2 linked regions of the Homo sapiens genome follow. The protein of the gene in region 2 purifies or fractionates together with the protein of the main gene of each other region. This does not show direct contact. Each region holds a gene or a part of one and is shown on either strand. Other genes may lie near its edges.

What was found. The genes of interacting proteins can lie anywhere in the genome.
Region 1: the proteins of ARHGAP12 (region 2) and TJP2 purify together in Homo sapiens (co-immunoprecipitation; 3 studies listed by BioGRID and IntAct, with this or other methods). This does not show direct contact.

The regions. Positions count from the first base shown.
Region 1 is NC_000009.12:69,247,177-69,250,926, reverse strand, and holds part of TJP2 (tight junction protein 2), read right to left. Parts: intron 2,916-3,750; coding exon 2,703-2,915; intron 1,553-2,702; coding exon 1,442-1,552; intron 1-1,441. UniProt on the Homo sapiens protein: Plays a role in tight junctions and adherens junctions. Acts as a positive regulator of RANKL-induced osteoclast differentiation, potentially via mediating downstream transcriptional activity.
Region 2 is NC_000010.11:31,927,026-31,930,775, forward strand, and holds the start of ARHGAP12 (rho GTPase-activating protein 12), read right to left. Parts: upstream 1,807-3,750; 5' UTR 1,658-1,806; exon of another isoform or gene 1,637-1,657; intron 1,019-1,636; exon of another isoform or gene 1-1,018. UniProt on the Homo sapiens protein: GTPase activator for the Rho-type GTPases by converting them to an inactive GDP-bound state.

The DNA.
Region 1 (3,750 bases), on a different chromosome or scaffold from region 2:
ACAAATACCATTCTGACAAGGAATGTAATACAGCAGGGCAAACAGCCACTGGCCAGGCTTCCTGAGCCCTACCTCCCTTCCTATACTAGTCTATTAGGAATGTCAGGAAGCCAAAAAGGAATAGGGAAAGTGCTGGGAGGGCTGTGATTGCTGGAGGTAAGATCAGACCTGGAATAATTTTGTTCTAGAGGAGATCAGCATCTTGGAGAAGATCTCAGAACAATTCAGGCTTTGGGACTCGAAGAGTGGGCTTCTGAGGTCACTGCTGCACTGAGGGTACATGAGCCGGCCCAGGTGAGACCCATGTCCAGCTGAGGAATGAGACTGGGGTGGGGAGCGAGGAGAGCACTGCTTCACGCTAACAGCCACTTTTCCTTCACACTTCCAGTCTTGCCCGGCTTGCAAATTTTCGCTGATGTATTTTATGAGGTCACTTATTATTACTTAGTACCTATCACATTTACTACTTCTGATGGCTCACACAATCAATTATGGCTTTCTTCTCATCTAAATTATTGAGTTAGGCTGGGCGCAGTGGCTCACGCCTGTAATCCCAGCACTGTGGGAGGCCGAAGTGGGTGGATCACCTGAGGCCAGGAGTTCGAGACCAGCCTGGCCAACATGTCGAAACCCCATCTCTACTAAAAATACAAAAATTAGCTGAATATAGTGGTGCACACCTCTAAGTCCCAGCTACTCGGGAGGCTGAGGCAGGAGAATCACTTGAACCCAGGAGGTGGAGGTTGCAGTGAGCCGAGATTGCACCACTGCACTCCAGCCTGGGCAACAGAGTGAGACTCTGTCTCAAAAAATAGTAATAATAAATAATAAATTATTGAGTTAAATAGGTTTTATTCTGGTATAAGGAAAAACATAGAGTCACAGCTCTGATTCTGACTAAAGGTAAATAATCTTTTGATATAAGCCCTTGTGTCTTTATATTGATTCTGCTCTGGATAATGATTTATTAAACAAATAAGCAGCTCTCTTAATGAGAGGCATTGTAAGCAGTGGTGATGATTATTCTCTTTAGCACATCACCAGTAAGAATTATCTGGTGCATCTAAATCAGACTGGGCAGAAAACTTTAGCTGGACAGCAAAAGAAAAACACGTTCTGCGATTGGTGATTCTGGGTATACAGTACAGTATTTTTCAATCTTTTTCTTTACAATCTTTTTTTAACAAGAAGAGTAAATTAAATAAACACTAACAGTCCTAAAATCATATGCTCTCCTAATATTGCCTTTCCTTCCTTTTTGCCCTTCCCTAATTTGGGAGTTCACCCAACAGGCCAAAAGATAGGCTCTAATAGAGAACACAGTGAGTCAGAACCGTAATTAAACACCATCTCAGTGTGCATGCTCCTCCCTGGCCGTCCAGGAGGCTTCAGAGGCATCTGCTTCCTCTTCCTTCCCATCCTGGGCTTCCCAGCCACGTACCTTGGGCGGCTCTGGCTTGAATGCTGGGGGCGGGCTATTGTCCCTAAGTTGATCGCTGCTAGCAGCCCTCCTCATCTGAGCTCGTGGCTCTGGGCTGGGTTTCCTTATGCTCTACAAGACATAAAGGTTCATTCACAACAAGAACATCCAAGCAGAGAGAACAGAGCACTCGACTGCTTTGGAGGAGTTCTGCAAACTTGAGTAAGTCCAGAAGTTGAGGTTCTGAGCCGGTGCTTCTTTACTGAACAGGCAGAAACCATCACCAAATGCTTCAGACACATTTTTAAAAACTGGCTGCATCCAATGTAGAGTCTCTTCCTTTAAAGCACAATTTTTTAAGAACCCTCCAAAAGTCTAAAATCTCTTGTGTCACTAATATCCATGTCTATAGGCATTTGGAAGTTAATTTATTCTTTACAAGTTGTCTAGCATAAACTAATTTGTTGCTGTGGTAATGGTGTATTTTTCTCCCCCTTCAGTTTGTTGTTGTTGAACTTTTTTTTTTTTTTTTTTTTGGTAGTTCTATTTCATAAAGAAAAAAATCATTTACTGGAATGAGCTAAAATGCTAGAGAGAAATCCACAGCAATAATTATCCAAATATATGAACAATCCCATCTTCAAAGATCATTATTCCAACATTCTCTGAGGTGCAACTAATAATTGCTAACTTGGCTGTGACTTTACAGTGCCTGTCAATGTGATTTCAAGGATCCCATAAGCTATCTAATCACAGTGGATGCACAGTACATGTGATGTGATCAGATGAAGGTTTGATCATGAACTCAATTAAAAAACTGAAATATAAGAGAGAAGGAAACTGATGGGGAAACACTCAAGAGCTTTGGCAAGATTAGAAAGGTTAAAGGCAGGATGGGGAAGAAAAGCAAGGACATCTAAGAGTACAGAGAGAAACCTAATCAAAGGTTACAAGTACATACAACAATACTGCATGGGAAGGAAGGTTCCGCTGGTAATTTGGACAGACGGCACCTAAAGCCATTCTGTTTATCCATCGCACCTGAGGGCATGGGTGTGCGGAGTGCTGACCCCTCAAGCTCTTCTGAAGTCCACCTGCCTGCCCCACTTTCCCACAGACTGCAACCATGCCAGCGTGGACTCAAAGCGAGAGACTCCCTGGAAGTCATCTGCTCCAACCCTTAGGAATGCCTTCCACAGCACCCTGAACACACAGCTGTCCACGAGAGTGCAAGGAAAACACCAGGCTCTCCTGTTCCTGCCCGTGGCCTGCCTCGCCTCACCTCCTCGTGCTGCACCGGCTCCGAGGAGCGGGTGATGGACGACACCAGCGGCTCCTCGGCTGGCTCATCCAGCTCATTGTCAGTGTAGGCGCCTCCTTCACCGTCCGTGTCTTCAAAGTCACTGATGAGGCGGCTGTCGCAACTCAGATAGTCCGCGCCCATGGCGGTTAAGTAGGACATGCGGTCTTCGGGGTCATCATCCATCCCTTCCATCTAGAGGAATTTGTGTTGGACGGTCAGTGGGGTCTGATGTGGCTCCTGGGAGTGGGGACTCAAGAAAATTCCCAAGGACACAGCCAAGCGACTGAAACCTTGATGTGCTCGCCAGGGAAGGCATCTTTTATTTTTCTCCCTGAGATCACTTGGCTTTGGTACAATGTTGATATTATGGTCGTTTTTGTGCAGGAACTCAAATTAGGGGCCCTGCAGCCTATCTGTGCTACCATCCATCCTCCATACCGCGGCTAAGCCACACTTTCTCAGTCTGTCTTGCTTTTCTTCTGAATCCAGCTCCTCTGCAGCCTGTTCTCCTGGTACCACTCTCCTAGTAATATCAACACATTGCACGCTGCCTTGTGCTACACTCACATCCATGCCTCTACAAGATTCTCAGACCCTCAAAGGCAGAAGCTATGTCCTGTTCAACCTGTCCTCCCCAGGGAAGCTTGCATCCCCCTTCCAAACTGGAAGCACTCCATAGATGCCAGATACTTTGACTACACATCTAGTTCTCAAAGAGCAAAACTTAGTCAATTCTGCAACAAAATAGTCACTGTCAAGTCTCACAAAACTACCTCAGTTCAGCTGGTGAACAGGATACTAACACCAAAAGCTTCTAAAATAAAAGCGGCCACAGGTAATAGAATCTCCCTCTCTCCTCCCTGCAGCACAGCTGTGTGTGAGCTATCTCCCCGAGGGAGAAGCGATCCAATTCTAGAGGCCTAGACAAATTCCCTAACGTTCTCATATCACCCATTCAAACTCCCAGAACGATGGCACATTCTCAACCAACCTTATTTTCTAAGTAATTCTAACTCCATTAGCTTTT
Region 2 (3,750 bases):
ATATACATACACACATTATATTACACTTCTGGGGTTTCTTTTTCCCCCACAGAGAAACACTTTTAGAACAGTGGAGCCGCATGCAACCAGGGGTCGCACATATGTGCGCAGACGGTCTGGCTCGTCAGGTGGCATGGGTGGGGGTCACGCTTTCACTGCCTGCTTTGGGCTCTCAAAACCCAGCTCTGAAACGTTTCCAAGGCAAAATAAAAATAGCCAAAATGCCTATTCAGACCAGAGGAGGTAGAGGAAGATGACCGATTCTGTAAAACACCCTCCTACAGATAAAGAAAAGGCGATATGGGCAAGTACACACACATCTAGGCCATCGTTCCCGACTTTTAAGTATGAAAGAGGCGTGGCTAGGGGCTAGATACTTATTTTTAACACTTCCATTGAAACACCCGGAGTCTCCCAAGGTCTAACCTCTAGAAGTCGGGTGGCAGAACCTGAATCAGAACCCGAGTGAGCCTTCCTTCCTCCACCACCTCCCTTTAGGAACGCATGCCTAAATAGTCGATAAAATCTACTTCTCAATGTCATGATTAACCCAAAAGCCAGCCACAACCAATCGTGTTATTAGAGTGCTAAAAGCCTCTATCCACAACAAACACTCCACTTGGGATGACATTAAAACTTTCGATAAAGGTGTACTTTCAACGTCGTGCTTTAGCCTTTGAAAATACATTTACAAAACTGCAGCTGCAGTCAAAAGGAAAACATCACACGCCTCGAAAGCTGAAGGGCGTGCCTTTTTCTCTAACGAAGACCGTGTGGCCATTTCTTCTCAAAGGGTCTGCAGTCACTTAAGATAGCAACGCGTAAAGGACAGCCGTTCTGAGAAGACAACCAGCTCCCCTGAGATGGGAGGCGGGCTGCACGCTGGTAAAGAGGATTTTTCAATTCAAGGACTTTGAGGAGATTCCGCCCAGATAAGCTGGAGGGGAGCGAATGCACGTCCATCCAGCAGGGGCAGGGCACCGGGAAAGACCGCAAAGAAGAAAGTGTCCGGTTTAAGGTCAACAGTCCTCGAGGGACGCCCCAGGTGGATTCCCCGGGTGGGCTCCCCGGGTGGGTGGAGGCCTGCAAGCCCCACCGCGATTAGGGAGTGGGCCCAGGGCGCGGGAGGGGCCGGGCCGGCCTTTTGCGCACACACACACACACACACACACACCCGCCTTTTGCAGACACACGCGCGCGCACACACCCGCCTTTTGCACATAGACACGCACACACCCGCCTTGTGCACACACGCGCGCACTCTCCCGCACTCACACACACACCCGCGCACCCTCACACTCTCCTCCCTGGGGGCGGGGCGGGCGGGCGCTGCCCTCACACAGGAAGTCAGGAAACCCAGGGGGCAGAGAAGCCACAACTTCGGGCCATTTAAACCCTCTCGCCCACGTCAGCCAATAGGCTGCGCCGGCCCCCTCCCCCTCGGCGCCTAACCCCCGCGCCCAGAGCCCCTCGCTGCGCGCCCGACCTCCCTTTGCGCGCACCTCCGCGGCGCCGCCGCCGCCGCCGCCGCGCCTCCCGCACACGCCTCCCCCCGACTCCACCGCCCTCGGCGGGCACAGCCCGGCCCCGGCGCGCCTTTGTGCAGCGCCTCGCCAACCTGCCCTCCGTCCGCCAGGACCCGCGCCCTGCACCTCACCGGGAGCCCGGCGGCCTCGCAGCAGGCGGCTCCCTTCTTAGTCCGCCCCGCGGCTGCGGGTCGACGACGCGAGCCCGAAGAGCGTTCACACGGCTACGGCCGCGGCCGGCCCGTCCCCGCAGGCTGGCCTCTGAGGGAGGGTAAGTTACAGGGCACGTCGGAGCGCGCCGGCGCGGGGGCGGGGCTCACGTGACGCGCGGGGGCGGGGCGGGAGGCTCACGTGATGGCCCGGGCGAGCTGGGCGGGCGCGGGTCTCCGGGACGGTCTGGGGTGGCTAGGGGGTGCGGCGCCCGGCGGGGATCCGAATAGGGGGCAGCCAGCGTACGGTGTGGGAACTCGGGCCGGCGCGGGAGCCTGCGGTCAAGGGGGCTCAGCACTTTGTAAACAAGGAGTGGGAAGCGTTAAAAAAACGCTCGTAGGGAAAACCAGGGAAGGGCGGACATAGCGCCAGGGTGGCAGGAATGGAGCCCGGGCAAAGACGGCCCTGCCGTGGGCCCTAGCGCTCCCTTCGTCGGCCCCTGGAGCTGCGGCCGGGCGTGGGTCAGTCGTTCACGGGCCCGGAAATTCCACTGGGACACCCGAAAAAGTGCTGCACGCCGCCTGAGGGAGACGGAAAGGGACCCGGGGCACTGAGTCCATTGCTGGGGTCGCCAGGGTACGTGGCAGGACCCGCTGTGCACACTCGGGACTGAGGAGACCCCTGGGACGCGGAGAGCCGCTCCAGGGCAGAACCAGTCCGTCAGCATTTAGCCTTCCACGGGCCTGAGGGTGCGAGCCCTGCGGGGGCCACAGGGTCATTGTCCAAAGTCATCCCCGTTTGCACTGTGGCAGCACCGAACCCGGAAGTAACAGCTTTGGCAGGTCTTTGATGGTGATCCAGTGGCAGGAGGAGCTCAGCTGGAATGGGAATCAGGAAAGAGACCTGGCTTCTGCCATTTATTGGCACTTCACCCTTCTGAACCTCAGCTTTCAAATGAGAGCTGGCTTCTAGGTCTAGAATACAGTGAGTGTGAGAAAAATAACTGAGAGGCGTTGGGACTTCAGTAACTACTCATTCCTTAACCAGTTGTTGATTGTGCCTGTTGTGCCAGGATGAAATATTTGTTAATAATAGAGACCAGAAAGGAGAGGGGGGAAAAAACAAGCATATGTATGATTCAAGCAATGAAGAGCTACTCTCCGGAGTTGGCTCTTTCCTGTGCTTCACTTCGTACTTGAAGATGCCACAATGCCTGGCTTCCTTATCAACCAGCTGAACTCCGAATTGTGCCTTACAGGATGCGAAGAATCCGGTAGGGCAGTGGCAAGACTTTAACAGCTGTGGTTTACAACCTTCTTATTAAATTAAGTCTAATGCGAGCTAAAGTGTTAAGATAGTCTCCATTTAGAAAGGAAAGAGGCTTACAATGAGAATTTTTGAAAAATAAGCCTGAGACTGTGCTGTCTCTATCGTTGCATTTGCTTTTCACAGTCCTTGGCACCCACTGCCTTTTTGTCTCCCTCGGTTTCTAACCCGTTCTGTTTTCTTGCATTTGTTCAGTATAAGGAGTATTTCCTGTATGCTTTGGCAACTATTTTCCATAGACTCTGCTTGTGTTCTCCTTATAAAACCAGAACAAGAGCAGTGCAAAAAAGAAAACGACCCTGATAGGAATGCGCTGATAACCTTACTTTCCCTACTCTCCAAACCTGAATTGGGCACCCTTGGTTTTAGCAAGAGATAGAACTCAACAGTTTGCATACACTTGCGGATCTGCCTGTAACCCCACTTCCTATTTCACAGCCTAATCTCGGATGATACCACAATGCCCACAGTATGCTGATCACCACCAACAGCAGATGGAGGCGGATAAAAAGAGCTTTCTCGCTAGTGTGTTGTTTTAAAAGAACCTGATGGAGAGCTATGATCATATGTAACACTGCCTCTAGTTAGTTTTTAAATAACACTTGTAGCATATGTCTGGCGCCTGTGCTCAGGATTTCAACAGATCATTTTCAGGATTTTGACATTTAACTGGCTTCTTATGAAGTAGCAGAGAGTTCCAAAATGTAGAACTGAAATATAAGCTCCACACACAGGCAGAGATTTGAGT